Homo sapiens: one gene and its partners. The protein of the gene in region 1 binds, or shares a complex with, the protein of each later gene. Each region holds a gene or a part of one and is shown on either strand. Other genes may lie near its edges. A codon is read from its position in the direction of its gene.

Region 1 (7,341 bases):
GTCTTGGAGAGAAATACTTTGCTGTGGGGGCAGGGATCGTTTATCAGGTCTCAGGATCTGAATGAAATATCCCTCAAAATGATTCACCTTGTTTTGTTCTTATTTCCAAATAAATTGTTTACTTGCTTTTTTGATGTTTTACTCTTGTGGACTGAAATATGTTAACTCTGGATAACTGGTAACATCCTTAATTGTAATCATCACAAAGCTAACGCCATCCTGCAAGACCTGATAAAACAGCCGTCAAGACTTTTCCTGCCATATACTGACCTCATCATCAACTCCAGAACAGTTGGTTACATTCAAATACAAAAAAAGATGCCAACAGAAATAAGAATGTCCTATTCACTCTCAATTAAGTTTTACTTTGTACTGTGCTGAACTGAACAAAATCAGAAATTACTGCATTAAATTAGACAAGAATAAATCAAAGCAAATTCAGGTTGGGTGTGGTGGCTCATGCCTGTAATCCCAGCAGTTTGGGAAGCCAAGGTGGGCAGATCACTTGAGGTCAGGAGTTCAAGACCAGCCTAGCCAACATGATGAAACCCCATCTCTACTAAAAATATAAAAATTAGCCAGGCGTGGTGGCATATGCCTGTAGTCCCAGCTACTCAGGAGGCTGAGGCACGAGAATCACTTGAACCTGGGTGGAGGATATTGCAGTAAGCCGAGATCCTGCCACTGTACTTCAGCCTGGGTGACAGAGCGAGACTCCACCTCAAACAAACAAACAAAAAGCAAATTCAATTATATTTTTCTGGAATGAAATTACCTTGAAATTAAAAGTACCTATGTGTATTGTCTCATCCCTTCTTAAAATGAACTATCCAATTATAAACTACTGATTTCAGTTATCACTTCAGTTATCATTGACTTATGATTAACAGAAGCTTTGCCTGCATAAATTTAAACTGATGTATAAAAGAACAGAAAGAAAATGTGTTCAGCAAATAACTGTTGAATGAAAGAATCAACAGGCTGCAAGTTTTTAAAAACTCTCCTCTTTTCTGCCATTCACTTAATGGAACAATGCTAGAAACAGTAGATTTGTTGAAATAGTATCTTTTTTGGTCACCTTCTCATTTAAAAACATATCAGGCTCTGGCCAGGCACAATGGCTCATGCCTGTAATCCCCCCACTTTGGGAGGCCGAGATGGAAGGATCGCTTGACTTCAGGAGTTCAAAAGCAGCCTGGGCAACATGGCGAGACCCCATCGCTACAAAAAATACAAAAATCAGTCTGAAGTGGTGATGCATACCTGTAGTCTCAGCTACGAAGGACACTGAGGTGGGAGAATCGCTTGGGTCCAGGAGGTCGAGGCTGCAGTGAGCTGTGATTGCACCACTGCATTCCAGCCTGAGTGAAAGAGCAAGACCCTGTCTCAAAAAAAAAAAAAAAAAAAAAAAAAAAAGCCGGCCAGGTGCAGGGGCTCATGCCTGTAATCCCACTACTTTGGGAGGCCAAGGCCGGAGGATCACTTGAGGCCAGGAGTTCGAGACCAGCATGGCCAACATGACGAAACCCCGTCTCTACTAAAAATACAAAAATTAGCTGGACGTGGTGGCTCATGCCTGTAATCCCAGCTACCAAAAATACAAAAATTAGCTGGGCATCGTGGCACATGTCTGTAATTCCAGCTACTCGGAAGGCTGAGGCACAAGAATGACTTAGGCCAGGGAAGCAGAGGTTGCACTGAGCTGAGATCATGCCATTGCACTCCAGCCTGGGTGACAGAGGGCAACTCTGTCTCAAAAAAAAAAAAAAAATATATATATATATATATATATATATACACACACACACACAAACACACATCTATATATATACTTAAAGGATGGTCTGAAGAATAGGCAATCTATCCTTCCCTTGACAAATTTCAGAAGTTCTTTTTCCTTTTGGGATCTATGGACTCCTTTAAGAAGTTGATTAAAATTCCAAATCCTCTTCCCAGAAAAAAGTACACACATGCATATAATTTTGTACATGCACACATGCATATAATTTTCGAAAATATTACAGAAAGCTCAAGGATTACCAAAGGTCATCTGTAGATATACCGAGGATCTACGGCCACAAGACCAAGCATCCCTGCTCATTTCAAATTGAATTTGTATTTTGGGGTCACCGAGAAACATTTGTAAAATATATTTCATCAGCTTTTAGAATTAAGAAAACATGTCCTTCTCCTGAATGACCTATTTACTTTTATCCCAAAGGCACTTTGGATTTTGAATACACAATACTTCTGTACCCTTCTTTACCGTGACTTCTGGGAAGACTAAAGTAAAATTTGCAATCTATCTCAACAAATTCAACGGGCTTTCACTGCAGGCATTTTGTATAGTAATTTATGCGTATTTCATTTAATCCACCCCTCATTTTCCCATTCCTCTGATTTCTTACTCTAGCATTTTTTTTGTGTGTGTGTGAGATGGAGTCTTGTTCTGTCACCCAGGCTGGAGTGCAGTGGCGTGATTTCCGCTCACTGCAGCCTCCACCTCCTAAGGGTTCAAGAGATTGTCCTGTCTCACCCTACCGAGTAGCTGGGATTACAGGCACGCGCCACCATACCCAGCTAATGTTTTGTATTTTTAGAAGATACGGGTTTCGACATGTTGGTCTCCGACTCCTGACCTCAGGTGATCCGCCCGCCTCGGCCTCCCAAAGTGCTGGGATTACAGGAGTGAGCCACCACGCCCAGCCTCATCTAGTTTTCATGTTTTATGGTATCTCTGTAAGTTGCCTCACATCCTTGCGGAAAGGGACTACTGTAAATAAATAACATGAAGAAAATTATCCCTTAAATTCAGTGTGTAGATCTGTTATGGCAAATTTATGACTGCAGGGTTTGATTTTAATTTGTTGTTGTTTCCCCCTCCTTTTTTTTTTTTTTGGAGGAGTCTCACTCTGTAGCCCAGGCTGCAGTGCAATGGCGCCATCTCAGCTCACTGCAACCTCCGCCTCCAGGGTTCTAGCGATTCTCCTGCCTCAGCCTCCCGCGTAGAGTGGATTACAGGCGCCTGCCACCAAGCCCGGCTAATTTTTTGTTTTTTCAGTAGAGACGGGATTTCACCATGTTGGCCAGGCTGGTCTCGAATTCCTGACCTCAAGTGATCCAACCGCCTCGGCCTCCCAAAGTGCTGGCGTGAGCCACCGCGCCCAGCCTGATTTGAATTTTAATTCATTAGCGACGTTTAAAAATCCCAGGATTTCACATAAAAATCCAGATTTCAGACGTCGAAAAAAAATGTAAAATGTTATCTCCCAATGCCGCAGGCAAACAGGATCACAGTCCTGAATAGCAACCGCGGTATCTAGTGGTTACGGTTCTCACATCCATTTTGCTCCATTTTATTACCTGAGAGGACCGGTATTTTCAAAACCTGGTGTATCAGTAACTTTTAGGGAAAACTTTTGAAAAAAGGACTGCACACACGCACCCTTTCTTCCTTCTCGTTCTTTGAAAGGAAACAACAGAAACGATTCATTCTGCAGGCATTCTGCGCTAGTCCCACGGACAGGCGACTAACAAGAGATAAAAAGGTGTGGGTCCCATAGGCGGTACGGTGTTACCCCTTCTGGTTGGCGGGTACCACGTTGCCGGTCGGGATACGGACCCACTGCGACTAGCACTAGGAGTGCTGACCCGAGCTATGCAAAGTTCTGACGAGAAGGCGGAACGGTACTTAATGAAGAGGATTAAGGAATCTAAATCGGTTTCGCTAAATTAGACACATCTGTCTAAGCAGCCACGGTCTATTCGCAGCAGGGGCGGGAAGACAAACCAACGCCCCAGCTCTCCGTTCAATCACCCGCAACTCAGCTCTGGATTAGACGCACCCTACGAAGATACCCGGGTTTCCGGAGCAACCGCCCGGGCCGTCCCCCTTTGGCCCCGCCTCCGAGACTCTTTCCCGCCAAAGGCCGTTATCGCCGCAGAGCATGGTGGGACAACGCTTTAGGCTAGGTTTCACCAAGTGCTTTGAAGGCGCCGAGTTGCTTTCAAAGATCCTCATTCCTGGAGAAATCGACCATCCTTCAAGACCCGACCTGGATGACTAGCTCCTTTAACGAAAGTTCGTTATTTAACTTTTACCAAACGGCTGGTCACTCTGTTCGCAAACCACCCCAAGCTGGGAACGCGGGGGACTTTTTTACCCCCTTCGTGGGGAGGGTGACGTCGCGCGTGCGTGCGCGTGCGCTGAACGTAGCCCTCGCAGCACCCGTTGCGCTCCCGCGCGTGCGTGTTGGGATCGAATCGCTGTTTCCTTCCGCTTCTCTTCCTCTGTCTCCCCCCCATATCCGTGCGCCGAGCTGATAAAGGCGCCATTTTGGAGGGGCCGCGGGAGACGTGGTGCCGCTGCGGGCTCGCTCTGCCGTGCGCTAGGCTTGGTGGGAAGGCCTGTTCTCGAGTCCGCGCTTTTCGTCACCGCCATGTCGGGAGGTGGTGTGATTCGTGGCCCCGCAGGGAACAACGATTGCCGCATCTACGTGGGTAACTTACCTCCAGACATCCGAACCAAGGACATTGAGGACGTGTTCTACAAATACGGCGCTATCCGCGACATCGACCTCAAGAATCGCCGCGGGGGACCGCCCTTCGCCTTCGTTGAGTTCGAGGACCCGCGGTGAGGCGGCATGGGGCTTGCAGCCTTGAGGAAATAGGTCCGAGTAGTTGGGGAAGGCTCCAAGGCCTTAACATAGAGAACGGGGAAGCGGGGGCTCTTAGAGAGGTTGGGGCGAGACTGTATCGCCCATGCAGGAGTCGAGTAAGGAGCTGAGTTGATGTGGCTTCTCTGGCGCCTCGCCTTGGACGTCCCCGGAGCCCATTCGCAGGCTGGAGCGGGAAACTGAGGCGCTGAGGGCTGGTGTAGTGGTTGGGAGCCTGGCGTGTTTCTGGGTGGGGGAGGGGCCATTCCTATTATGCGGCGCATGTGGGCTCTTCCACGTTGGGTGCGCATGTGCGGGGGGTTTGCTGGTTCCCAACTGAGCGAGCTTCTCCTCCTGGTGTTTCTCATCCCTTTTACTTTCTGCGATCCCGCAGAGACGCGGAAGACGCGGTGTATGGTCGCGACGGCTATGATTACGATGGGTACCGTCTGCGGGTGGAGTTTCCTCGAAGCGGCCGTGGAACAGGCCGAGGCGGCGGCGGGGGTGGAGGTGGCGGAGCTCCCCGAGGTCGCTATGGCCCCCCATCCAGGCGGTCTGAAAACAGAGTGGTTGTCTCTGGTGAGTGTACTGGTTGTGTGGATTGATGTGAAGGGACGAAAACTACCTAAAATTTTTCTCTTGCGTGACAGGTTTAATAATTGCAAATTTTTCATGCTAGGTCTTAAATTGCTTTAGTTTTTGGGTGAATTTAATAAACGAGGATTGCTGCTGTGGTGATTTACCAAATTAGGTTGCGGTACTAGATACGAAGATCGTTACAAATAATTTTGGACTCTGGATTCCAGAATCTTACCAGCTCTCTTTACCTGGTATCACTTAAGTACACCTATTAAGTACTTTAAAGTACTCTTTGTCCTAATGTACCTTACCAGCTTAACGTGAAATTTAAGATAATTGGTACTAAGAAAAAAAAAATCACTTTTTCAGGACTGCCTCCAAGTGGAAGTTGGCAGGATTTAAAGGATCACATGCGTGAAGCAGGTGATGTATGTTATGCTGATGTTTACCGAGATGGCACTGGTGTCGTGGAGTTTGTACGGAAAGAAGATATGACCTATGCAGTTCGAAAACTGGATAACACTAAGTTTAGATCTCATGAGGTAGGTTATACACGTATTCTTTTCTTTGACCAGAATTGGATACAGTGGTCTTAACAGTGGAATTTCAAGGTAAGGATTCAGGCAAGGTTGTCCAAGTAAATTGCCAGATTTCTGGTTTTAGTTACATTGTATTCATTCAGCATGTCTGAAGATAGATGAAAGCTTAGATCTTTCAATGGAAAGTTCTGTCTATCCAATAGGGAGAAACTGCCTACATCCGGGTTAAAGTTGATGGGCCCAGAAGTCCAAGTTATGGAAGATCTCGATCTCGAAGCCGTAGTCGTAGCAGAAGCCGTAGCAGAAGCAACAGCAGGAGTCGCAGTTACTCCCCAAGGAGAAGCAGAGGATCACCACGCTATTCTCCCCGTCATAGCAGATCTCGCTCTCGTACATAAGATGATTGGTGACACTTTTTGTAGAACCCATGTTGTATACAGTTTTCCTTTATTCAGTACAATCTTTTCATTTTTTAATTCAAACTGTTTTGTTCAGAATGGGCTAAAGTGTTGAATTGCATTCTTGTAATATCCCCTTGCTCCTAACATCTACATTCCCTTCGTGTCTTTGATAAATTGTATTTTAAGTGATGTCATAGACAGGATTGTTTAAATTTAGTTAACTCCATACTCTTCAGACTGTGATATTGTGTAAATGTCTATCTGCCCTGGTTTGTGTGAACTGGGATGTTGGGGGTGTTTGTGGTTATCTTACCTGGGGAAGTTCTTATGTTTATCTTGCTTTTCATGTGTCTTTCTGTAGACATATCTGAAGAGATGGATTAAGAATGCTTTGGATTAAGGATTGTGGAGCACATTTCAATCATTTTAGGATTGTCAAAAGGAGGATTGAGGAGGATCAGATCAATAATGGAGGCAATGGTATGACTCCAAGTGCTATTGTCACAGATGAAATTGGCAGTATTGACCTTATACTAAAAGGCAGGGGTTAAAAATGATTATATACATTTTCCTTAAAACACTTGCAAACATTTTATTCAGTTGTCTTTAGCTACAATTGCTTTGCTTTTTAAACCTTGGCAATTGTGGCAAAATTATATTGCCCATTTTGTAGCAACTTATTTTGCTCCCTTCCCCCCATTTTTGTTTTAATAGGGACTAATGTGGGAAGAACTGGCTAATTTGTCACAGTGCTTAGTTACAACTGTTAATGTGTGACCTGCTGTTGGTGTACATGTGGGTACAGGGTGTTTTTAAATCCAACAAGATAGAGTATAATATCAATACTGCTAAATCTGCATGTCCTCTGTGTGACTGATAGAGCGTTGCTATTTCATTTTTTTAAGACAAAATGAAAGCAAAATATAGAGTTCCAATGTATTGGTGTAGATAATCTAGTTGGGAATACTTTTAAGTCTCACCTTCCCCTTTAAACTAATATTCATAATTGGTTCATATGTTTAAAAGACTTTAATTTACAAATTAAATTGCAAATGGGAGCATTAGATTTAGTTTTAGACTTAGGTGGGTAGCAATGCCAGTAAACTTAAATTACGTAACTTCTTGCAACCACGAAACCTGTAATACGCTGTACAGTAACAAGTGTTG
Region 2 (7,020 bases), on another chromosome or scaffold:
TGGAAAATATCCAGCAGTAACACATCACGTTTAGGCAACTTCAGCATCTGGATTGACAGTTCAGCTAACACTTTGGCCTTCTGATTCCTTTACCTCTTCATTCTCTTTAGCCACCTGGTCACACAATCACACCCTGGATCTTGTCTTTACTAAAAAGCCACCACCCAGGCTGGGCGTGCAGTGGCTCACGCCTGTAATCCCAACACTTTGGGAGGCTGAGGCGGGCGGATCGCTTGAGGTCAGGGGTTTGAGACCAGCCTGGCCAACATGGTGAAAACCCGTTTCTACTAAAAATACAAAAATTAGCTGGGCGTGGTGGTGCGCACCTGTAGTCTCTGCTACTCAGGAGGCTGAGGCAGGAGAATCTCTTGAACCCAGGAGGTGGAGGTTGCAGTGAGCTGATATTGTGTCACTGCACTCCAGCCTGGGCGACAGAGCGCGACTCCATTTCAAAAAAAACAAAAAAGTTGCCAGCCAGGCCAGGCCCATTGGCTCTTGCCTGTAATCCCAGCACTTTGGGAGTCCAAGGTGGAGGATCCCTTGAGCCCAGGAGTTCAAGACCAGCCTGGGCAACATAGCGAGACCTCATTTCTACAAAAAAATAGGAAAATTAGTTGGGTGTGGTGACATTTGCCTATAGTCCCAGCTACTCAGGAGGATCCCTTGAGCCCAGGAGTTCAAGACTGAGTGAGCTATGATTTCGCTACTGCACTCTAGCCTGGGAAACAGCAAGATTGTACAAAAAAAAAAAAAAAGTCACCACACCTCCAAATCACTGATTCAGACATTCTGCTGTGATCATAACCCACTGTTTTCCAGTTTGCTGGCTCAAAAATATCAAATAATGTCACCTAGTTTTTTTTGAAATCTTTATGTAGTTTTACTAATATTTAAGTTTTATTTTTAAAACAAAATTTTGTGGAACCTTTTTTTTCCTGTTGGTAATCAAATACCTCTTTTTTTTTTTAACATTTTGTTTTCTGGGTATCCACAATAAGTCACCCTCAAATCTCAGTACTGTAAATATCCTCATTGTTCAGACTGGTGATTTGTTTTCTTTTTTGGCTAAAGGAAATATGTATCCCAAGAGCCCTCCATTTCCCTGCTCCAGTCTGGCCTGGTTCGCTAGGTCTGTTGGATAATTACTGTCATGGGATTCCATAAACACTGTCCTAGGGAATTCCCTTTGCCTCTTTGTTGTGCTGGATCCACTGATTCTTGGATTCCATGATGTTTTCTTGGGTTACTCTTCCATTTAATGGATCATCGAGAAGGGAACCTTCATCCTTTCTCTCATTGCTTTTCTGTTGGTCTGTTTTTCTTGGGCTGCTTTTACCTTGAGTTCTCTAGTCAGCCTGGGGGTTATAAGCTAGACTGCCAGTGTTCTAAAGCCAGTTCAGGGAATGAAGCCAGGGGATGGATCTCACAACTAAGTATGTAGGTTTTAATTTAATCTCTTGTTTTTCAGCATGATACTCCTGTCTTTAGCTGAGTCTGTTGTCTAAGAGTCCAGAGACCACCTACTTCAATCTTTCCACAGTAAACCTTGAGTCTTCTGTTATGGTGGGAGAGTAGTAGCCTGGTTGCTCAGAGTCAGAGAGGAAATTTAGGAGTCTACTGCTTCTTACACAGATTTTGACCCTTTTATTTATTTAAACTTTTTTCTTTTTTTGTTTTAAGGCTGCATTACTAGCCGATTCCCCCCCCACCCTTTTTTTTTTTTTTTTTTTTGAGACAGAGTCTCGCTGTCTCCCAGGCTGGAGTGCAGTGGCGCCATCTCAGCTCACTGCAAGCTCCGCCTCCCGGGTTCACGCCATTCTCCTGCCTCAGCCTCCAGAGTAGCTGGGACTACAGGTGCTTGCCACCATGCCCAGCTAATTTTTTGTATTTTTTAGTAGAGACAAGGTTTCACCATGTTAGCCAGGATGGTCTCGGTCTCCTGACCTTGTGATCTGCCCACCTTGGCCTCCCAAAGTGCTGGGATTACAGGCATGAGTGACTGCGCCCAGCCCACCCCACCTCACCCTTTTTAAAAAAAGAAAAAAAAGAAAAGAAAAGTTGGGGTCTCGCTATATTGCCCAGGTTGGACCCGAACTCTTGGTCTCAGGCAATCCTCTCTCCTCAGTCTCCTGAGTAGCTGAAATTACAGGTGCACACCACCACATCCAGCTCCACTCCTTTATTTTTTGTTCCGCCTGTGCATCTGCCTTCAGATGTACCTGTGCTTCCAATTCCCCAGTCTTCCTGGGTTTTGCAACATGAATAGTTTGTCCCTTGCCTTCCCTATTCTCGTCTCATCCTCCCTCCCCACCCCCAGGCAAATATCAGCCTTTTCGGATCTGCTAAGACAGTTAACACTGTCCTTTAGCTTTCCAGTTTCCACAGTTCTATTGATATCTGTCACCTGTTTCCATTTTCTTTGTCTTTATGTGTTTTTGCCTTTTTTAAAAAAGATCTTTACTCTGATTTTTATTGGATTTTTGGAAGGACCTGAAAGCAGACAGCTGTGTTCAATCAGTTAGTTTAGTCATTTTAAACAGAAGTCCCTGCATTAGTTCTTGAATTTTATCAAAACCTCAGTTCATTGACTGTTCCTTACTTCTTCTTTATTAGGTCTTCTTGTTTTTACTTCTCTCCTTACCAAATGTGGATTCCAAGATCTATCATTCTAGTCATTTTATAAATACACCATCACCTTTCCCCTCCAATTTGGTCAGACTTCAGCATGGTTGTATGCAGCTGCTTCTCCTCTTGTCAGATCTAGGTGCTTTGCATCTCTCAATCTTCTGAAATTTCTGGGACCTTGATCTTTTGGTTTATCCTATGTCTTGTCTGCATCTTTAGACTCCTTTACTGAGTCTTTCCCATCAGCATCCAAATAGCTGAAATATTTCTCATAGTACACAAATATTTTGGGGTAGAGTGGATGCCGCCTTTGCCCAACTTTACTTTCTTCTCTGCTTTTACCCTTTCCCAACCCTTTCTTCAAATGCAGAAACTAACTCATCTTTTGAAAGCCCAACCTAAATTCTGCTTTCTCCTTCAAGGCTTACCTGCTTCTCTTCAGCCAAAAGTGATTTCAGCCCCCAATGAATGCCTAGAGAACTTTACTTCATTGTGTTTGCCTTTTTATAAACCTTTTTGAAAATAAGTGTTTTGCCTCCCCTACTAGACTGGGATTCTTGTCACATTTGTTTATGTAGTCCAATACCCATAGTTGAAGAAATAAACCATGGTTATTAAGATAAACAATCAAGACACTTCACACACAGGTTCTTAAAAATGTTGATTGTCAGAAGTGCATACATGCAGATACTCAGTTGGATAACTCACATTTTTCTTTATCTGCGAGTTTTATTTATTTTTGCTGTCACTTTTCACCATATACATGGTTAAAAATAAACAATATTCAGCACCTTTAATGCTCTTCAGTCTTTCCAGTCTTTTTTTTTCTTTCTTTTTTTTTTTTAAATCCTTTATGAGATGTATATGTTGCCCTCATTTCATACTTGCAAATATTCAGGTACAGAAAGGGAGAGGAACTTTTTGACTCAATAAGGCTCTCTTTGTTTATTTATTTTTTGAGACAGAGTCTCACTCTGTTGCCCAGGCCGGAGTGCAGTGGCACCATCTTGGCTCACTGCAACCTCCGCCTCCTGGGTTCAAGCAATTCTCTTGCCTCAGCCTCCCAAGTAGCTGGGACTACAGGCACATGCCACCATGCCCGGCTAATTTTTGTATTTTTAGTAGAGATTGGGGTTTTGCCATGTTGGCCAGGTTTGTCTCAAACTCCTGGCCTTAAGTGATCTGGCCGCCTTGGCCTCCCAAAGTGCTGGGATTAGAGGTGTGAGCCACTGCACCTGGTCTATTTATTTAGTTTTTTGAGACAGGGTCTCACTCTGTTACCCAGGCTGTGGAGCGCAGAGGTGTGATTACTGCTCACTGCAGCCTTGCTCACCTGAGCCTGGGTTCAGGTGATCTTCCCACCTCAGCCTCTTGGACAGCTGGGACTACAGGCATGCACCACCATACCTGGCTAATGTTTTGTATTTTTTGTAGAGTCAGGGTCTTGCCATGTTGCCCAGGCTGGTCTCAAGCCCCTGGGCTCAAGCACTTCTCTCACCTCAGACTCCCAAAGTGCTAGGATTACAGACATGAGTCACTGTGCCTGGCCAAGGCTCTCTTTAAGTGGTCACTAAATGGCATTTGTAACCAAAAGTAATGTGTGTGGTGGTTTTTTTCTTTCCGGAAGATTTTGTCTACTGGAACAAAAGCGTGTTTTAACTGTAGTAATAACTATAGTGTTTTAACATCCATTTGAAATTGGTAAGGCATAGAATTTGTGTGGTTTGCTAAAAAACTACTTTCAAGAATATGTATTTGTGAAACTATTATCCTTATTCTTCTCTACCACCCCACCTAACTAATCCGAGAGTAATTGAGTATAGTTCGAATGACCTGGTGACAGTAGACGTGGTATAGAGGTATAATTTGAATATGCTTTAGCCTGTACTGTGAGTTAGCATCTTTTCTCTTTCTCTAATATTTGTATAAAACAGCCATTTTCTGAAGAATCTGTATTCATTGCTCTAAACTTCCACCAAAATTTTTGGAGATGTACAGCCATGGTTGTTTTATGTGATAGATAGATATCACTGATAACTTCAAAGTGTTCTGAAAGAGAGTATTTTGAGGCAGATCTTAAAGGAATCTTAGTAGCCTGTCCTGTATATTTAGTAGTTTCATTTGTCCACCCCTACTAACCAAAATTAGTAGAAGTTGTAGAGAGCTATTGAAGGAAAGACCATCTCTTCATAGGGCCAATTACTTAAGCGACTCAGTTATAAGTTTTTAATTTAAGTTGTAAGTAGGAGATAACTTTTACAGAGACAATCTTTGGGTTAGATATTACCTCAAAAGTTTTATAGTTCAGTATGGAAACTGAATAGGCATGCTTCAGCATGGGTGTATGCAGCTTTTTGATGGAAAGCATCAAAAGCACAAAGCAGATGAAGTAAAGTCATGCTTTGATAGACTAAGTTGGCATTGTCATGTTTGGTTTATCACATGTCCATAGGAATTTTCTTCTTAGATATCATATCAGAAAGGTCTTGGGTTGATATGGTTTGGCTATGTCCCCACCCACATCTCACCTTGTAATAATACCCCCCGATTTGTGGCAAGGTGGGGCCAGGTAGAGGTAATTGAATCATGATGGGGGGTTCCCTCATACTGTTCTTGTGGTAGTGAATAAGTCTCACAAGTTCTGATGGTTTTATAAATGTGAGTTCCCCTCCACAAGCTCTCTCTTGCCTGCCGCCATGTAAGACGTCGCTTTGCTCTTCCTTCGTCTTCCGCCATAATTGTGAAGCCTCCCCAGCTATGTGAAACTGAGTCAGTTAAACCCCTTTCCTTTATAAATTACCCAGGCTTGGGTATGTCTTTATTAGCAGTGTGAGAACACATTAATACATGGGTCATGGAATATCAGCTTCAAACTTCTTTGCTAGTACTTTTCCTTTTTGGAATTTATTGATTCTTTAGCCTGGTTATAAAACCTAGGGTTTTTGGCTTTTCTCTGGTCATTACTGATTTATCTTGAAAGTTTAGGCATTTTTTGTGTGTGCTTATGCTTGCACCTTCCAGTCAAAACATGCTTTTGAAAGGAAAGCCTTCTAGAAAATAGAAAATATTCCTATACAACTTCAGTAGATGAGTTCAGTCTAGGAATACTCTGTGCCTTGCACTGATAGAAACTGGGAGTATGTAAATAATGAAAACCAAAGATCTTTCTCCCAGAGAGTGTACCAATGTAGCTGTGTCATCCAGTGTAGTAGCCACCAGTCTAGTGTGACTATTTAAACTTAAAATTAAGTAAAAGTTAAAATCAGTTTCTTTTTTTTTTTTTTTTTTTTTTGAGACGGAGTCTCACTCTGTCACTCAGGCTGGAGTGCAGTGGTGCAATCTTGGCTCACTGCAACCTCCACCTCCCGGGTTCAAGCAATTCTGCCTCAGGCTCCCGAGTAACTGGGATTACAGGTGCATGCCACCATGCCTGGCTAATTTTTTGTATTGTTAGTGGAGATGGGGTTTCACTGTGTTAGCCAGAATGGTCTCAATCTCCTGATCTCGTGATCCACCCACCTCAGCCTCCCAGAGTGCTGGGATTACAGGCATGAGCCACTGCGCCCGGCCTAAAATCAGTTTCTTATTTGCACTTACCCACATTCCAAGTACTGTACGGTACAAATATAGAACATTTCATGTCTTTGAAGTATTGGAGTCTATGTTTGTGATTTTGTGACAGTATTTCTGTTGCCATGGTAGTCTGTTATGTGGTGGCATTTCTCCATATTTTGATTAGTTTCTTGTCTTGCCAGGCCTTGGGCCAAAGTTGATAGTTTGATTTAGGATGTAAAATTATCAGGGTACTACTATATTTTCTAATTACAATAGTTTTTCCAAAGTTTTTCAGATATTTCTTCAGCATTCTTTTACAGTGATTGATTGCACTGATGTTTATGGAGGAAATGGAAAGTAGGTTTTATAGATTTTTTTTTTTTTGTGGCAAAACATTCAAAACATAAATTTAGCATTTTAACGTTTTTTTTTTTTCTGAGACAGGGTCTTGTTCTGTTGCCCAGGTTGGAGTGCAGTGGTGCGATCATAGCTCACTGCAGCCTTAAACTCCCAGGCTCAAGCTATCTTGCCTCCTCAGCCTCCCAAGTAGCTGGGATTACAGGCATGAGCTACCGTGCCCAGTCATTTTAACCATTTTTAAGTGTGCAGTTCAGTGGTATTACATACATTGACATTGTTGTGCAACCATCACCATCATCCATCTTCAAAACTTTTTCATCTTGTAAAACTAAATCTATGCCCACTAAACAAAATAGGTGCCCATTTGCTCCCCGCCCCAATCCCTGGCAACCACCATTCTACTTTCTGTCTCTATGAATGTGACTATTCTTGGTACCTCATGTAAGTGGAATCATACAGTATTTAGCCTTTTTGTGATGG
Region 3 (7,373 bases), 6.5 Mb from region 1:
TGAGAGGATCACCTGAGCTTGGGAGGTTGAGGCTGCAGTGAGCTGTGATTGCACCACTGCACTCCAGCCTGGGCAACAGAGACTCTGAATCAAAAAATAAAAATAAATAAAACAACATAACATAAAAACAAAAAACACACCTCAAATTACCAGCTAGGATATTTACGTTTCAGACCCAGATCAATTGCAAAATCAATGTTCAGCTCTCCTGGAAAAGTTCTCATGTATGGACCTGACCTCTATCAGTTGATTGTCTTAGCTCAATCTTACAATTTGGTCTACTCCATAAGCTCACTCATTTGGTTAAGTAAACAATGTCTACAGTTCTAACAATTATTTTTACTAAAATGCATAATTATGTGATAGTTATACATATACCAACCTGTTATGTGAGACAAGCTGACCTGCAAGTAGTCCAAGGCCAGTGAATCAATTACTGCTTGTACATTGTGTGCATCATCTTCTTGACTCCTAGGAATAACTATGAGGTCTGGGGGGGGAAAAAATCACATAATTTTGTATCCATGAGAGGCCAAGTTTTCATCTCATTGTCTCTGACTAGGCTACTGAATATGCTCAACTGCTATAAAGGCTCTGCCCAAACAGAACATGCTGTAAAGTACAGATAAAGTTAATAAACCCTGAACTCTACACAGCAGAATCTTTACTGGTTGAGTATTTATTGATTGAACCGATTTATCAATATTAGACTGGTTGAATACGGTTGAATATTTATTACACCATATATATATATATAGATATATAGATATACATGAATATGCTTTACAAGAAGCACCATGTTAAGGAAGATAAAGTGGTCCCTAAATTCAAAGACAGCTAATAGTCTAATAAGGGAGCCAAGACATGATACTTTAACCCATAACTATGGGCTACTTTCTACGAAGAAAAAAAAAACACAGCAGGCATTCAAGGAGCGTTCTTATATATACACATATGTATGTTTATTTATTATTTATTGAGACAGGGTCTCGCTCTATCGCCCAGGCTGGAATGCAGTGGCGTGATCTTGGCTCACTACAACCTCCACTTTCCCGGCTCAAGCAATTCTCTTGCCTCAGCCTCCCAAGTAGCTGGGTTTATAGGCGTGCACCACTATGCCTGGCTAATTTTTGTATTTTTAGCAGAGATGGCATTTTGCCATATTGGCCAGGCTGGTATTGAACTCCTGGCCTCAGGTGATCCACCTGCCTCAAGTGATGAGCCTCCCAAGGTAATGGGATTAGAGGTGTGAGCCACCGCGCCTGGCCCTTATATGTCCTTTTGAATAGCCAACTAGAATTATTGGTATAAAGATTTAAAAGGTCAGCACAGGCTGGACGTGGTGGCTCATGCCTGTAATCCTATCACTTTGGGAGGTAGACGGGAGGATCACTTAAGCTGAGTTGGTACCACCCTGGTCTTGAACATAGTGAGATGGTGAGCAAGATGAAAGGACATATGCGCTTATTAACTGTCTTGGTAAATGAGGTTCATCATCTACAAGCATCAATTCTTATCCCTAGCACTGGTTAAGTAACAGAATCCAATAAATTCCCAAGCTCCACTCAATTTTACAACCTTTGAAGGTACATTTACAGAAAAGATGCAACTTTCACAAGGCAGTAGCCATGATTAGGTTAAGCCGTGATTATCAGGAGCCCTCAAACTGATCTGCTCAAGGCCGTTATTATGAGTGGGTTCCACAGGGTATTCCTTAAGGAATACAATATTATAATTATACAATATGTGATATTAAATACAATTTAATATACAATATTTATTTTAATATTGTATATTAATATAGAATTTAATATGCAATATTAAAAAAAGAAACAAGCAAAGAGAAAATGAAATTTTATAAATATCAAAGAATCTAACTAAAGGACTAAAAACTTTTGGCCTAAGATATAGGCAAAATTACTCCTGCTTTTAGTATTCTTACCTGGTACCTTTTCTCCCAAAATAGACTGATAAAGAGCAATAAAAACATTAGCATCACAGTCTTGAAGTTCATGTATTCTCAGATGTATATGACACTTAAAAAGAAGGTTATTGGCAATGGTTACCCACTCTGTTGGGAAAAAGGGGGAAAGATCAGTCTTAAAAACCACCAGAAAAAAATCACACAGACATTTAAAAAATCCAACAACCTCCCCCCCAACAAAAACAGACACTGAACTTTGCAGAAGATAAGGAATTTGATTGTTAGAGAATTTCAAAGACCCTTTAGGCATGGTTTTTAAAAAGATGTATTTAATTTCTTGGGATGATTTCCAGAGTGCTGTAATTTCTACATAGTCAAAACTATACTGCAAATTCAATTGATACTGTTGCAGCCTAAAATCTTAAGTTACTTATATAAGCCTTACATGGGTGTTTTTAGTTAAAACATATTTACAAGTAAACAGGAATATTATGTCATAAACAACAGTTTAATGATAATCCGAGGTTACCAGAAACTCATTAATGGAGGCTGCTTCGCACTTGCAATAGTATTGGTCTTGTGTTTACCCAATTATCTTGTGCAAGTCAGGGTTTCTCTGGTGCCGGAAAAAGTGGTGATTAAACTTAGGCTGTTAAGAACTGGTATAATAACAACATCAACGGTAATGCATTTGTTAGTTTTTCTTTTTTATTATATCGATCTATATGAAAGAAAATATGGGAAGTACATGAAGCTCAGAATTATCAATACTGTTGACGTTTCCTGCGTACCACATTCTCCTCTCCCCTAGATATTGCTGGGATTTGCAAAGTTTAACGGTTTCTGTACCAAAAGTAACTTAGCTTAAAATACTTGTTCCTTGAAATGCCTGGGAATTGGTAGGAAAGCACTTTCAATCGGTATTAGAAACAAACATCTCCACTATGTTCTGGACACGTAACGTTCTGGAAACGAATGAGAGTGTATTTTCCATGCACATAATCCCCCTCCCCACGCCCATTTCTCACAGCTGGCCAAACCATGACAACTGGTTTGTACGCAGTCCTTGTGAAAAGGATGAAAGCGTCCTAGACAACCAAATTAATTCGCTCTTCAAAAGCGGTGCTAGACAAAGCCCATGACTCTAGAGGGCACTGAAGAGAAAAAAGCACAACTATTCTACAGGGGCATATTCTACTATTCTGCAGGGGCATAATAAATCTTAAGAATGCTGTTCCTTTAAAGACCAATACAAAAGCAGGTACGACCTCAGGGCCCATAGTGCAAGGGCGGAGGGCACACGGACAGCGGCTAGACGCCCCACAGAAAGACAAGTCCGGGGACGACCCTTCTGACCGCTCTTTTTACAGCCAGGACCCAAGTGTCCTACCGGCCTCGCCCCAGTGCCTCTCTCTCTCCCACAGCATACTGCTGTTCCACGGCCTCGAAGCGAAGAGGTGGTGAAGCTGAGAGACCCTATCCAGGGAACCCGCCAGCGCGACGCGGCGTCTGAAGGTCACGAGCCCCGCCGACAGCCCAGACCCAGTCCGGGCTAGCCCGAGGCCTCCCTGGAGGTGGACGGTTTCAGTCCACACATACTGGGACCCCAGGGAGACACTCACCAGCATCCGAGCCTGCCATGTTTCAGAGGCAGGTCGCCGCCGGACTCCGACGCGGCCGGGAAGGCGACGGTGTCCTGGAAGGACCGATCCACGCAGACCCGACACTGGGGCGCGGACGCACGAACCAAAGCGCGGGGAAGGAGGCGTGAAAGAAGGACGGACGTTAAAAGAGCTTCTCGCCGCTGATTGGTCATCAGAGGAGCACTTCCTTTCACAGGACGTGAAACGGGGGCGGTTTGGGAAGTTTAGAGACCATTCTCCGCCGACCAAAACCCGTCAAAGGATTATCAGACACGCGGGTCGGACGGTCCACATCAGCCGGCAGCCCGGGCGGGTCCCGGGGTGCGAGCAGCGCACTTCCGGTGAGCTATTTCGTTTTGTATCCCTCCGCCGACGTCAACGGGAAAGTAGTGCGGACCGCTCTCTCGGTGGTCCGGGGTGGTACAGCCACGTGACAACGCCAGGCCCCGCCTTCCCCCTCTTTTGGTTACAGACGTGAGGGCTCTTTGGAGACGTAAACATCTCCGAGTGGCGAGGGTGGGCGGGGCTGGGCTTGGGAAAGGGCGGGGTGGCTTGCTTGAGGTGTGGAAAGACCAGAAGAAGGTGAGGTCAAGAGAGTGCAGAATGAGGCATTCCAATGGTGGGTGGGCCCTGACCTGAGAGAGTGGCGCGGGGAGGGGTGAAAGCGCGGCGATCCTGGAACGCCAGCGGGCGTTGCGGCCTATGCGCGAGGGGCGGGGCGATTAGGTCATAGAGCGGCTCCCAGCGTTCCCTGCGGCGTAGGAGGCGGTCCAGACTATAAAAGCGGCTGCCGGAAAGCGGCCGGCACCTCATTCATTTCTACCGGTCTCTAGTAGTGCAGCTTCGGCTGGTGTCATCGGTGTCCTTCCTCCGCTGCCGCCCCCGCAAGGCTTCGCCGTCATCGAGGCCATTTCCAGCGACTTGTCGCACGCTTTTCTATATACTTCGTTCCCCGCCAACCGCAACCATTGACGCCATGTCGGGTTATTCGAGTGACCGAGACCGCGGCCGGGACCGAGGGTGAGTTTGGGAGCCGAGCTGTCAGGCCTGGCGGGTGGGGGGATGGGAGGGCGGGTCAGGGTGGCGGCCGGCGGGGGCTTTGCGGCTTGGACTTGGCCTTTCCGGGCTATCTTGGGACTTCCTTTCCCGAAGGCTTGCGCCATTTTGATATTCACGTCACAGTGATTGGAAGAGATTTGACGGTGTAGTGTCTTCAAGCTTGCTTTTTGTGTGGGGATTGGGGAGCTGTCGGGGCGGCTGCCATTTGGTAGCTGTTGAGGGAGTTGAGAGGGAGCGTATTGTGCGGATGAAAGCGGGACGCTTCGAGGCAGACGAAGGAACATCTGTTAGGTGCGGCGTTTCGGGAGGTGTTTTTGGGGTGGCCGGGCATTCTGTGGGAGCGAGGGGACCACTTCCAAAGCCCTGGTGCTGTTGGGGTAGGAGGGCGGCCGGCATCAGCCATGTGGCTGAGTCGCGAGTACAAAATGCCGGCCTCGGACATGGCGGCGGCGCCTTTGTTACCCCGCCCGGCGGAGGAGCTCAAAATGGCAGCGTCGAGAAAATGTGGCGCAGAGAGAAATGCGAGACAAAGGGGGAAGCGCCGCCCCAGCGGGAACGCCGCCCGGCCGACTCCGCCCGGGCCGGGACTCCTCCCCCGGTAGTCGCCGGCTCCTCCTTTTCTTTTTTCCTGCGTTATATAATTTTGATTCGTTGATCCGGAGCTCTACCGCGGCGTTCCCCCAGCTGGGTTTGCTAGCAGAAGTGTTTCTGAGAAAACCCTTGTTCTGTTATCGCTGACTGTACTGTTTAGGTTCTTACCACTAAAGCTGTTTGGTTCCAAAACGGCCATATGAGTAACATCGTCGTGATGCTCTTCGGTTCATGTAGCCTTGTTATTGCTGATAGTGAATTGCTAGGCTGGTGGGGAAGATTACAGTAACCACAAGAAGTGGTGTGTGCCAGAATCCCAAATTCTGGCATGTGGGTGACAAGTTTCCGACATGATAAATCCCCGGCTTCCGACATGATAAATCCCAGGCTGTTTACATGACCTAAGTAATGTGTACTTGGGACTACGGGAAATGTTAACTGTGGCTGTTGAGAGAGAGAGAGATTTTCACGAAGGACAGTGCTAGGTTTACCTCTCGAAGTCTGTTTTCAGTGGTTTTTAGCTTGTGCCAATGGATGACAAATCTATACAGAAACCTGGGTATAGCCATTTGAAAATGTGAATAACGTTTTTTTTCATTCCAGGTTTGGTGCACCTCGATTTGGAGGAAGTAGGGCAGGGCCCTTATCTGGAAAGAAGTTTGGAAACCCTGGGGAGAAATTAGTTAAAAAGAAGTGGAATCTTGATGAGCTGCCTAAATTTGAGAAGAATTTTTATCAAGAGCACCCTGATTTGGCTAGGCGCACAGCAGTGAGTAAATTCATGTGGCTTCATCAGGCTGTAACTCGATCGTGGATTCTAGTAAATGAAATTCTGACAGGTGTTTTGCAAATAACTCAATTTTGGTAGAGTTACATGTTCTGACTTCATAATTGGGAAAGGTGTGACTCACTTTTGGATATAGGTGGCTTTGGGATTTTTACTTAAATTAGGTTGAGTATAACAATAAATTTTTTTTTTCATAATAGGGTGTTCATAGGTGGGTCCAGATTAAAATGAAGGCTACTTTAAACTAGTTACTAAATTATGAAGTTAGGGGCTTATCAATTACGTATTTAGCTAGGGGTGGTTGTCATGAATTTTAAGACTGTTATAATTTGTTTTGCAGCAAGAGGTGGAAACATACAGAAGAAGCAAGGAAATTACAGTTAGAGGTCACAACTGCCCGAAGCCAGTTCTAAATTTTTATGAAGCCAATTTCCCTGGTAAGTGCTACTTTTCAGTTCTACCTACCCGTGTTTTTGTTTCCACCTACCCCCTCTTTTTCTTGGCATCACTAATTTTTACTAAATATCTGTTACTAATTATAGCAAATGTCATGGATGTTATTGCAAGACAGAATTTCACTGAACCCACTGCTATTCAAGCTCAGGGATGGCCAGTTGCTCTAAGTGGATTGGATATGGTTGGAGTGGCACAGACTGGATCTGGGAAAACATTGTCTGTAAGTTTGGGAGAACTCTTGAGTTGATCTGATATATGCAAGAAAATGTAATGGTAATTTAAAAACGAGTATTTTAATGTGATTTCTGTTTGTCCCCACTTTCACCCTAAATAGTATTTGCTTCCTGCCATTGTCCACATCAATCATCAGCCATTCCTAGAGAGAGGCGATGGGCCTATTGTAAGTATATATTTTTAACTTTTTATTAGAAGCATAATGTGTAGATTTTAGACTACATAGCTAAAGATGTAATCATTTGTGGTGGTTTTATATAGAGGTTAGCTCACCCTATTCAGCTGGAGCTGTTTTGGGTATTGGACAACACATGAAGAAAGGATCTGCTAGTATAATAAGTTAGCAGTTTAAAACTAGTATCCAGGTTTGTGCTGAAAGCTGTTTCTCTTTCCTTAGTGTTTGGTGCTGGCACCAACTCGGGAACTGGCCCAACAGGTGCAGCAAGTAGCTGCTGAATATTGTAGAGCATGTCGCTTGAAGTCTACTTGTATCTACGGTGGTGCTCCTAAGGGACCACAAATACGTGATTTGGAGAGAGGTATGTAATGAAAAGGGTTTTATTTGTCATTGGTGCTAAATATCCTAGGTATTGTAGTTACACTTACGTATTTAATTAAAGGTGTGGAAATCTGTATTGCAACACCTGGAAGACTGATTGACTTTTTAGAGTGTGGAAAA
Region 4 (7,489 bases), on another chromosome or scaffold:
AAGGGGAAACTGAGGCAGGGTGAGGAAGTGCGGCCAGCCCACCCACCTTCAAGCAGCCTGGCCCGGTCCGCGCACCCAGAGCCCAGAGCCCGGAGCCCCCGAGCCCAGGCCGGCCGGGCCACTAGCGGAGTCGGCCAGCCCCGGAGCCGCGCACTCACCGCCTCCGCCACCGCCGCCGACTTCCGGGTGCCGCGCCCGCGCGCCACCGCAGCCAGCCCAGTACCGCCCAGCCCGAAGCCGGCGCGTTCACCATTGGGCCGCGCAGCGAGGGGCGGGGCGGCGCGCCGCATGCCGGCGTCCCGTTGGCTGGGCGCGCTGTCGCTCGGAGGCTGCCACCTCCTGGCGCCCCGCCCCCGGGGCTGCGCCAAAGCTTCGGGCTGCGCGGGCGTCTGAGCGCTTCCTGATCCAGCGGCCTTCGGGGACTCCGCGGCTCCCTGCCTGCAGGGACGCCATGGGAGGTCGCAGCCGCCCCTGAGTCCATGCCCTCATGGACACCATCTGTCACCTGCTCACCCTGCGGCCTCTCTCGGAAGAGGTACAGGAATGCTCACTTCCGGACTGGCCCCCTCAGACTGCGTCCTGGTCTCCCCATCCTGTTCACTCAACCCCACCTCTGGACCTGGCCATCTTCCTCTTGGTCATCCCTTCCTTCACTTTATGGCCTCCAGGTCGGCTCTTTCCTCCCTGATGTCCCTGCCATTCCCAGTATGTACCCCCAGACCCTGGACTAGGCATTTGAGCACTATACCCTGCACACCCACCACCTCCCCCACTTCCACCCCCCAGTGTAGCCTTTGAGCTCACATCCAGGTCCAGGCCCCAGCGACGAGGGGCTGGCCCAGCTTGACTTGTGCAGGGTGAGCAGGTGGGCACTGACTGGGGCCCTCCCAACAGGACAGAGGCATTAGCTGGGACCGCTGCTCCTGTAGCCTCTGGGCTGTGCCTGGGCCTATGTGGCAGAAAGGTGGAGAGTCAAAGCCCAGAGGCTCAGGCCCTGCCTCAAAGTGAGCATTCAAAAAACTATGACATGGATGACAAAGACATTAGGGATAATGATAATGTGTAAAGCACTCTAAACCCAATGTCTGGGTCAGCAGTTCTTTCATCCCACTTTATAGATGTAAACACTGAGACTTGGAGCAGTTATGTCATTCAGTTGAAGTTGAAAAAGGTGGCAAGCAAGAGAGGCCACATTAGCTTCAACCTGTGTTGAAGACCTAGGTGCCCTGATGCCCTGCAGAAAACTGGGGCTCAGGGATGGGAAGAGCCTGGCTGGTAATCAGCAACGGCAAGAGTCTAACCTGGACCTACATGCGGGCCCGTTGTGCTCCACACTTTTGCTATCTTATCTGTGTTTCCCCTGGAACCCAACAGAACCTTTTACAAGGACTCCAGATGCCCAGGGACTCATGGCCAGCGGGCCGCAGACCCAGCCAGACATGGTTGTCTCTCCCACCATCCAGCAGTGGGATCATGTGGGGCTGGTACCAGTGATTTCCCTCTGAGCAGCCAAACCTATGCAATCTATAGGGCCAAGAGGTGGTGGTGGTGGACAAGTGGGATCTGGGGCTTGGGGGTGATGGACTGTGCCCTGGGGTTCATGGCAGCACCTGGAGAATGGGCTTCCCCAAAGCACCAGGCCATGCACCTCAAAGCTGGACATGAGTTGACCAAGGTTTCCCTTTGCCCACAAAGAGGGATGCAGTAACATGTCAGATGGTGGTTTGCATCCTGTTCTGTCATACCTTGTGGCCTTGGGCCATCCCCACCCCCAGCCATACTTTTCCCAGCTAGACAGAGCCAGAGCAGACACTCTGATCTTCTTTGTCACCACTGACACTCCAGTCTGGATGACATGCGATGCCAGGAAGCAGGTGACGGCAGATGAAATGGGTCTAGGATGGGCACCTAAGCCCTGGGATCTTGGGGCTGCAACAGGCTCACTGGCATCCAACCTCTAATTGCACACAAACTCAGATAGGAAGCTCACTACCTTCTGTGGCCACTCTTTTGATTTCAACAGCTGCCACTCTTGAAAAGTTCTTGACACCCAGCTGAAAGCATTTTCTCTCTGTGGCTTTCTCCGGGGGCCTCACAGCTGTCCGCATGGAGCTAGGTGAGAGGATGAGAGAGGGAGAACACTGGGCTACTGGTCCCTGTGGTCTCCCTTGCTGTGTTTTTCTTATCTTTTTCTTTTTTCCTTTTTTTTGAGATGGAGTCTCGCTCTGTCTCCTAGGCTGCCGTGCGGTGGTGCAATTTCAGCTCACTGCAACCTCCGCCTCCCAGGTTCAAGCGATCTCCTGCCTCAGCCTCCCAAGTAGCTGGGACTATGGGCGTCTACCACCATGCCCCGCTACTTTTTTTTGTATTCTTTTAGTAGAGATGGGGTTTTGCTATGTTGGCCAGGCTGGTCTCGAACTCCTGACCTCTGGTGATTTGCCTGCCTTGGCCTCCCAAAGTGCTGGGATTACAGGCATGAGCCACTGCGCCCAGCCTCCCTTGTTGTGTTTCTGACCCCTGGCTGCAGCCTAATGGGCCGACTGCTGGACAGCGGTCCTGAGTCCTGTTTGAATTGGTGCTGCCCCGACATCCTCTGACCTCAGCTAATGATCCTGCCTGCCGAGGGCAGACAGGTCTCTGCAACCCTATGGGTGGTAGGGGTGGTGATGAGAGGAGAGGTAGTCTCACTTGCACAGATTTTGGTGTATGGTTCTGTCTTTTGCACTCTTTCAACAGAGGTCTGTCCAGTCCCTCTTGCAAGTGTGGGGAGGGGGTGGTGCAGGACTATGAGGTAACTGTGAGAAGAGGGGCTCCAGCAGAACCAGGGTCCAATGGCCTTGAAGAGATGGCTGGGGACAGCTGGACTCATTACGTCTACTCCTAAATGGAGGAAACGACCCCTCAGCTACACAGCACCTGAGCCAGAATGTCACCATGGTGCTGCTCCACAGGATGACAGCTACCTGGTTTGTGAGGGCCCCTATTCTAGGGACAGCTACTTCATTCTGCCCTCCCAGAGCAGCAAGCAACAACCCTATGCCAGGAGGCCAATTGGCACGTCAAGTGCCAGCTCCAATCGATTGATAGTAGCTGCCTGGCTCTGAAAGGCAGCTGGGATCGATTCACCATGCTGCCAGCACACAGATGGACCCAGCGGTGGTCCCAGCAGTGAGTTCTTGCCTTGGGCCATTTCATTTTCTTTGTCCTGGCCAAGGAATGATTGGATGAACACACTGGACTCCCAATATGGGTGGATAAGACAAGAGTGTCTGGTCACACCCCTCCACCACTCATAAGCATGGTTGTGGGCAGTTTGGTTCCCCAGGCGGCCTTGGAGAATGCAATGAGCCGAGGAACTGGTCATCTCCAGGTGCATCCAGGGCAGGAAAGGATGACAGCATGCGTGAGCCAGGGTCACTGGCTAAGAAGTCATCTCAGGACCTCCCCCTAGAAAAGCCCACTGGGCAGCATCCCTGCTGGTTCCCCCCTACACCACAAGGTTACGCAGAGCTGGCGGAGGGTCATGGTCCCACTCATGTCAGGTGCTCTTAATCTGGCAAGGAAATGTAACCTACGTGAATCTCAACAGGCAGTGAAGCACCGTTTCTTCCTGACTCCAGGTAGGGTGAAGAAAATGGGACAGTAGTACGGGGTGCGGGCATAAACGCACAACTCTGCCTCCCCAGACGCAGAGCTGTGGGGCTGTGAGAATGCCAGGAGGAGGTAAGAAAGGGCGGCCCCATGGGGGGCCTGCAGGGTGGGACAAGCCCAAGAGGTCTCTACATCCAGGCCTGGTGGGGGAGGTGAGCCCCTGGTTTACCGAGGGGGTCCCTTCCTGCCCTCGGAAATACTGCAGCTCCTACCTCCATCGTCTCCCCGCTGCGGGGACCCAGGGGCGTGAGGATGAGAGAGCCCCCAGGCCCCAGGGTCAGACGACTGTGTTCAAGCAAGTGAGAACCTCTCTGAGGCTGTTTCCCAACTGTAAAATGGGGATAGCAGCAGAACTCTCTCTCGCGGCTTGCGTGAAGAATACAATTCGATGTCGACAGGAGGGAGCGGCGCGCAGCGCGCAGCGAGTAGCAGGCGCTGAAGAAGGATACCTGTGAACTGGGAGTGGTGGCGGAGGCTACGCGGCCAGAGTCCGGGGAAGGGGCGCCGGCTCTGCCAGTCCCTGCTCGGGGCTGGATGGTCGGGGGATGTTCTCGTAAGTCGGCTGGGAGGGAGCGGTCCCGCGTACCCTGCCACCGCCGCCGCAGAGGTTCGGGCAGGTGCGGGGCCGCGGCCCCTCCGCGAGGGGGCCGGTCATCCGCCGGGACTGACATCCCGGAGGCCCAATGGCAAGCCGTCATCTCCGCGCATCCGCCCAATCGGCGCCGGTTGCCGTGCCGCGCCGGGTCTCTCGACCAATGGGAAAATTTGCTGTCAGATGGGGCGGGGCGGAGATTCGCGTCGCCGGCCCGGTCCGCTTTGCGCACGGGCCGCGTGAGGGCGGGAGGGCTGGCCCGGGGTCTCGGGTTGCGCGCTGGGCCTGGAGGGAGGGGGCGGCCCCCGCACCGGTCCGAGTTGCGGCCGCGTGGACTGCGACCCGCGCCGCGCCGCACCGCGCCGCGCCCTGGGAACGCCGCTCCCCGCGCGCCAACGGACCCGGGGAAGCCCTTCTGGGGTCCGAGGCCGCGCTGCGGGGCCGCCCACGCTGCGCTCCAGGTAAGCCTGAGCCAGTGGGCGGGGTGTGGGACCCGGGGCTGGGGCCTCGGGTCGGAGCCGGGACTGGGGGCGGGGCTGCAGATATGGGACGCATTCCGGGCAGCGGTCCGGACAGGGTCCTATCCCTGGAGTCGAGATCCGGGCGAGGGTCTGGGCCGGACGTCGGAGCCAATCTCCGCCCCACCCGCGTCTTGTCCGCGCGCTCTGCGGCGTCCGAGACCCCGGGCCGGCGGGGGCGGGTCTCTTTGTGCGTGGCCTTGGGGCCCTACCCTACCCGTCCGGGCGTCTTGCACTGAGCACTCCAGCCGAGCGCGGCCCGACCCCGCAGCCGTGCCCGCCCCGCGCGACGCTTGGCGCCTAGCTGCCAGGGCCCTGCAGCCGCCGAAACTTTCCAACAGCCCGAGGGGCGGCAGGCCGGGAACTTTCCTGGGGCAGCGCGCCGCCGGGAAGCTCAGGGGCACCGACGGCCCGGAGGTGTCCTCGCGCCGCGCTGCTCCTGCCGCCTCGGGGGTGAGAGAGGGCGCGCCACCCGGACCCCCGGCCTGGGTCCCCCTCCCCACGCCGCCCTGCGCCCCCTCGGTGCCGGTGCGGAGACATGTCATCTCCACTCTGAGGGAGACTGCTCGGTTTGCTGGGGAGTCGCCCTGGGCAGGTGGCCTGAGAGCTCCAGCCTATTTTAATTTTTAAATAATTAAATATTGGCTGCTTACAATATTTCACCGTTTCTTAGCTATGTGTAATGTAACATACTTAAAATGGAACTAAAGGACTTCAGCTCCCTTTCCCTACATCCAGGCATATTTAGAAATAAGGAAAAGAAAGGTGCCCCGTGGGTATTTTTTAGAGTAGGCTCTTAATGCTGCTGTCTAATAACCTCAGGTGAGTACCCAGGCTGCTGTGGGGGAAACCTCCCCTATGGTATGGGCCAGGGGGGTGCAGTGGGAGCCTCCACCTCTCCCGACCTTAGCTTCTCTGGGGTAGCTGCCTTTACTTCTTCCTACTTCTTAACTACTGCCTTATCTGCCTTTACTCTGGGATCTGGGCGGTGTTTAGAGGTCTGGTCCAAACAAGGCAGGTGTTACCTATCTTGTACTCACTCTATTGGAGCTGGGATGGTGCTGAATGCAGGGGGGCAGTCAGCGCTCTCTTGCCCGGTGTGCCATGCCAGTGGCCGGTCAGCTCCTAAGCAGGTGATCCAGGCCTTAGATCAGGCGACAGTGTGAGCCGCAGCGTGTCTGGGAAGGCATTTCCCCCAGTCTTGCCCCATCCTATCCGCAATGTCTGCTCCCAGCTGTCCCCTGTCCCCACCCTACCCCCATTCTGGGGTCCACCAGCGCCCAGCAGAGGACTGGGCACAGAACATTCGCTAAGGGACTCAAGTCCCAGCTGAGAGGGTAGTTGAGCACAGCCAAGCCAGCCCCTGCCCAGCTCTTGGCTGAGCTGCCCTGTCAGGCTTTTCAGCATAAACACAAGGACCTTCTGACCAAGGTTCCTCCTGGGAGAACAAGTTCTGACCCTCAATCCTGCTAAATTTGAGTCTCCCCACCCACCACATCTGGGCTGCTTGGCTCCCATGTTTGCTCTGGCACTCCCTCCAGAGGTGGCCCTGTAGTCTCCCCCCAGTCCCGGGGCCCTCTGCATCTCTGTGGCTCTGTGAGGGTAGGGTAGCACCCCTCCTTCTGTTTGTGCTACACAGGGATTCAGGGTGAGTTCCCTGTGCTCCTTCACCCCAGGAGTCTGGCCTGGGGGAGCATGAGGCTGTCCTGAGTAAGGACAGAAGGTGCAGGAGCAGCAGGATCCCCGGTCTCTGGGTGGAGCAGGGAGCTCTGCACACGGATGCCAGGCACCACCCTCTGTCCAGCCCATCTGTCGTGCTCCCCGCCTGGCCCTGGCAGAGGGAGTGACAGGGTAGAGCTGGGATAGGGAGTCAGGGCCCATTCTGTAGACAGGGCCAGGAATGGAGGGTGGGGGTCCAGGGACAGCACTGCAGAGCACCAGCTGGGCCTTGGGGGTCCTGGGGACTTCCCTGATGGTGGCTTAGTCATGGGGAGGTGTCTGTTCTTTTGTCAGCAGCTTCAATTAAGACCAGAATGAGGCCGGGCGCAGTGGCTCATGCCTGTAATCCCAACACTTTGGGAGGCCAAGGCAGGTGGATCACCTGAGGTCAGGAGTTTGACACTAGCCTGGCCAACATGGTGAAACCCTGTCTCTACTAAAAATACAAAAATTAGTCGGGCATGGTGGCATGCGCCTGTAGTCCCAGCTACTCAAGAGGCTGAGGCAGGAGAATCGCTTGAACCGGGGAGGTGAGGGTTGCAGTGAGCCAAGATCACACCACTGCACTCCAGCCTGGGTGATAGAGCGAGACTCTATCTCCAAAAAACAAAAACAAACAAAACAACCAGGATGGGCTGGTCACGGTGGCTCGTACCTGTAATCCCAGCACTTTGGGAGGCCGAGGCAGGCAGACAGATCACCTGAGGTCAGGAGTTTGAGACCAGCCTGGCCAACATGGTGAAACCCTGTTTCTACTAAAAATACAAAACAAATTAGCTGGACCTGGTGGCATATGCCTGTAATCCCAGCTGCTGGGGAGACTGAGGCAGGAGGGTTGCCTGAACCTGGGAGGCAGAGGTTGCAGTGAGCCAAGATTGTGCCATCGCACTCCAGCCTGGGTGACAGGGTGAGACTCCGTCTCAAAAAAAGAAAAAAAAATACCCACAAAAAAACAAACAGAAAAACCCAAGATGAAGTCTTGGGTCACTCTGAGGGGACTTGGGATCAG

What was found.
Region 2: the proteins of SRSF1 (region 1) and TNPO3 are in contact, whole or in part, in a crystal structure (PDB 4C0O), measured with the Homo sapiens proteins. Residues at the interface, in NP_008855.1 of Homo sapiens: Ser116 (codon at 5,201), Arg117 (codon at 5,204), Arg118 (codon at 5,207), Ser133 (codon at 5,621), Trp134 (codon at 5,624), Gln135 (codon at 5,627), Lys138 (codon at 5,636), Asp139 (codon at 5,639), Arg142 (codon at 5,648), Glu143 (codon at 5,651), Gly145 (codon at 5,657), Asp146 (codon at 5,660), Cys148 (codon at 5,666), Tyr149 (codon at 5,669), Ala150 (codon at 5,672), Asp151 (codon at 5,675), Val152 (codon at 5,678), Tyr153 (codon at 5,681), Arg154 (codon at 5,684), Val172 (codon at 5,738), Arg173 (codon at 5,741), Asp176 (codon at 5,750), Asn177 (codon at 5,753), Arg181 (codon at 5,765), His183 (codon at 5,771), Tyr189 (codon at 5,989), Ile190 (codon at 5,992), Arg191 (codon at 5,995), Arg198 (codon at 6,016), Pro200 (codon at 6,022); in NP_036602.1 of Homo sapiens: His155, Arg157, Arg160, Thr167, Tyr254, Ile256, Glu257, Glu304, Glu340, Ile341, Phe343, Asn344, Tyr347, Arg348, Glu351, His352, Lys355, Thr356, Arg620, Asn656, Glu660, Arg661, Arg664, Arg667, Phe668, Arg671, Ser698, Cys699, Tyr702, Ile706.
Region 3: SRSF1 (region 1) and DDX5 share a complex: the UniProt entries of both Homo sapiens proteins name them as parts of the ribonucleoprotein complex.
Region 4: SRSF1 (region 1) and ARVCF share a complex: the UniProt entries of both Homo sapiens proteins name them as parts of the ribonucleoprotein complex.

Annotation. Positions count from the first base shown.
Region 1 is NC_000017.11:58,004,236-58,011,576, reverse strand, and holds the start of SRSF1 (serine/arginine-rich splicing factor 1), read left to right. Parts: upstream 1-4,330; 5' UTR 4,331-4,439; coding exon 4,440-4,633; intron 4,634-5,049; coding exon 5,050-5,234; intron 5,235-5,603; coding exon 5,604-5,776; coding exon of another isoform or gene 5,777-5,830; exon of another isoform or gene 5,831-5,976; coding exon 5,977-6,171; 3' UTR 6,172-7,341. UniProt on the Homo sapiens protein: Plays a role in preventing exon skipping, ensuring the accuracy of splicing and regulating alternative splicing.
Region 2 is NC_000007.14:129,045,093-129,052,112, reverse strand, and holds part of TNPO3 (transportin-3), read left to right. Parts: intron 1-7,020. UniProt on the Homo sapiens protein: Importin, which transports target proteins into the nucleus. Specifically mediates the nuclear import of splicing factor serine/arginine (SR) proteins, such as RBM4, SFRS1 and SFRS2, by recognizing phosphorylated SR domains.
Region 3 is NC_000017.11:64,503,290-64,510,662, reverse strand, and holds the start of DDX5 (probable ATP-dependent RNA helicase DDX5), read left to right. Parts: upstream 1-4,373; 5' UTR 4,374-4,543; coding exon 4,544-4,587; intron 4,588-4,725; exon of another isoform or gene 4,726-4,873; coding exon of another isoform or gene 4,874-4,917; intron 4,918-5,820; coding exon 5,821-5,986; intron 5,987-6,344; coding exon 6,345-6,441; intron 6,442-6,546; coding exon 6,547-6,680; intron 6,681-6,794; coding exon 6,795-6,860; intron 6,861-7,091; coding exon 7,092-7,233; intron 7,234-7,314; coding exon 7,315-7,373. Other genes in the region: CEP95 (centrosomal protein of 95 kDa), read right to left, coding at 383-490, 1,943-2,234. UniProt on the Homo sapiens protein: Involved in the alternative regulation of pre-mRNA splicing; its RNA helicase activity is necessary for increasing tau exon 10 inclusion and occurs in a RBM4-dependent manner. Binds to the tau pre-mRNA in the stem-loop region downstream of exon 10.
Region 4 is NC_000022.11:20,013,804-20,021,292, reverse strand, and holds the start of ARVCF (splicing regulator ARVCF), read left to right. Parts: upstream 1-4,469; 5' UTR 4,470-4,704; intron 4,705-7,489. UniProt on the Homo sapiens protein: Contributes to the regulation of alternative splicing of pre-mRNAs.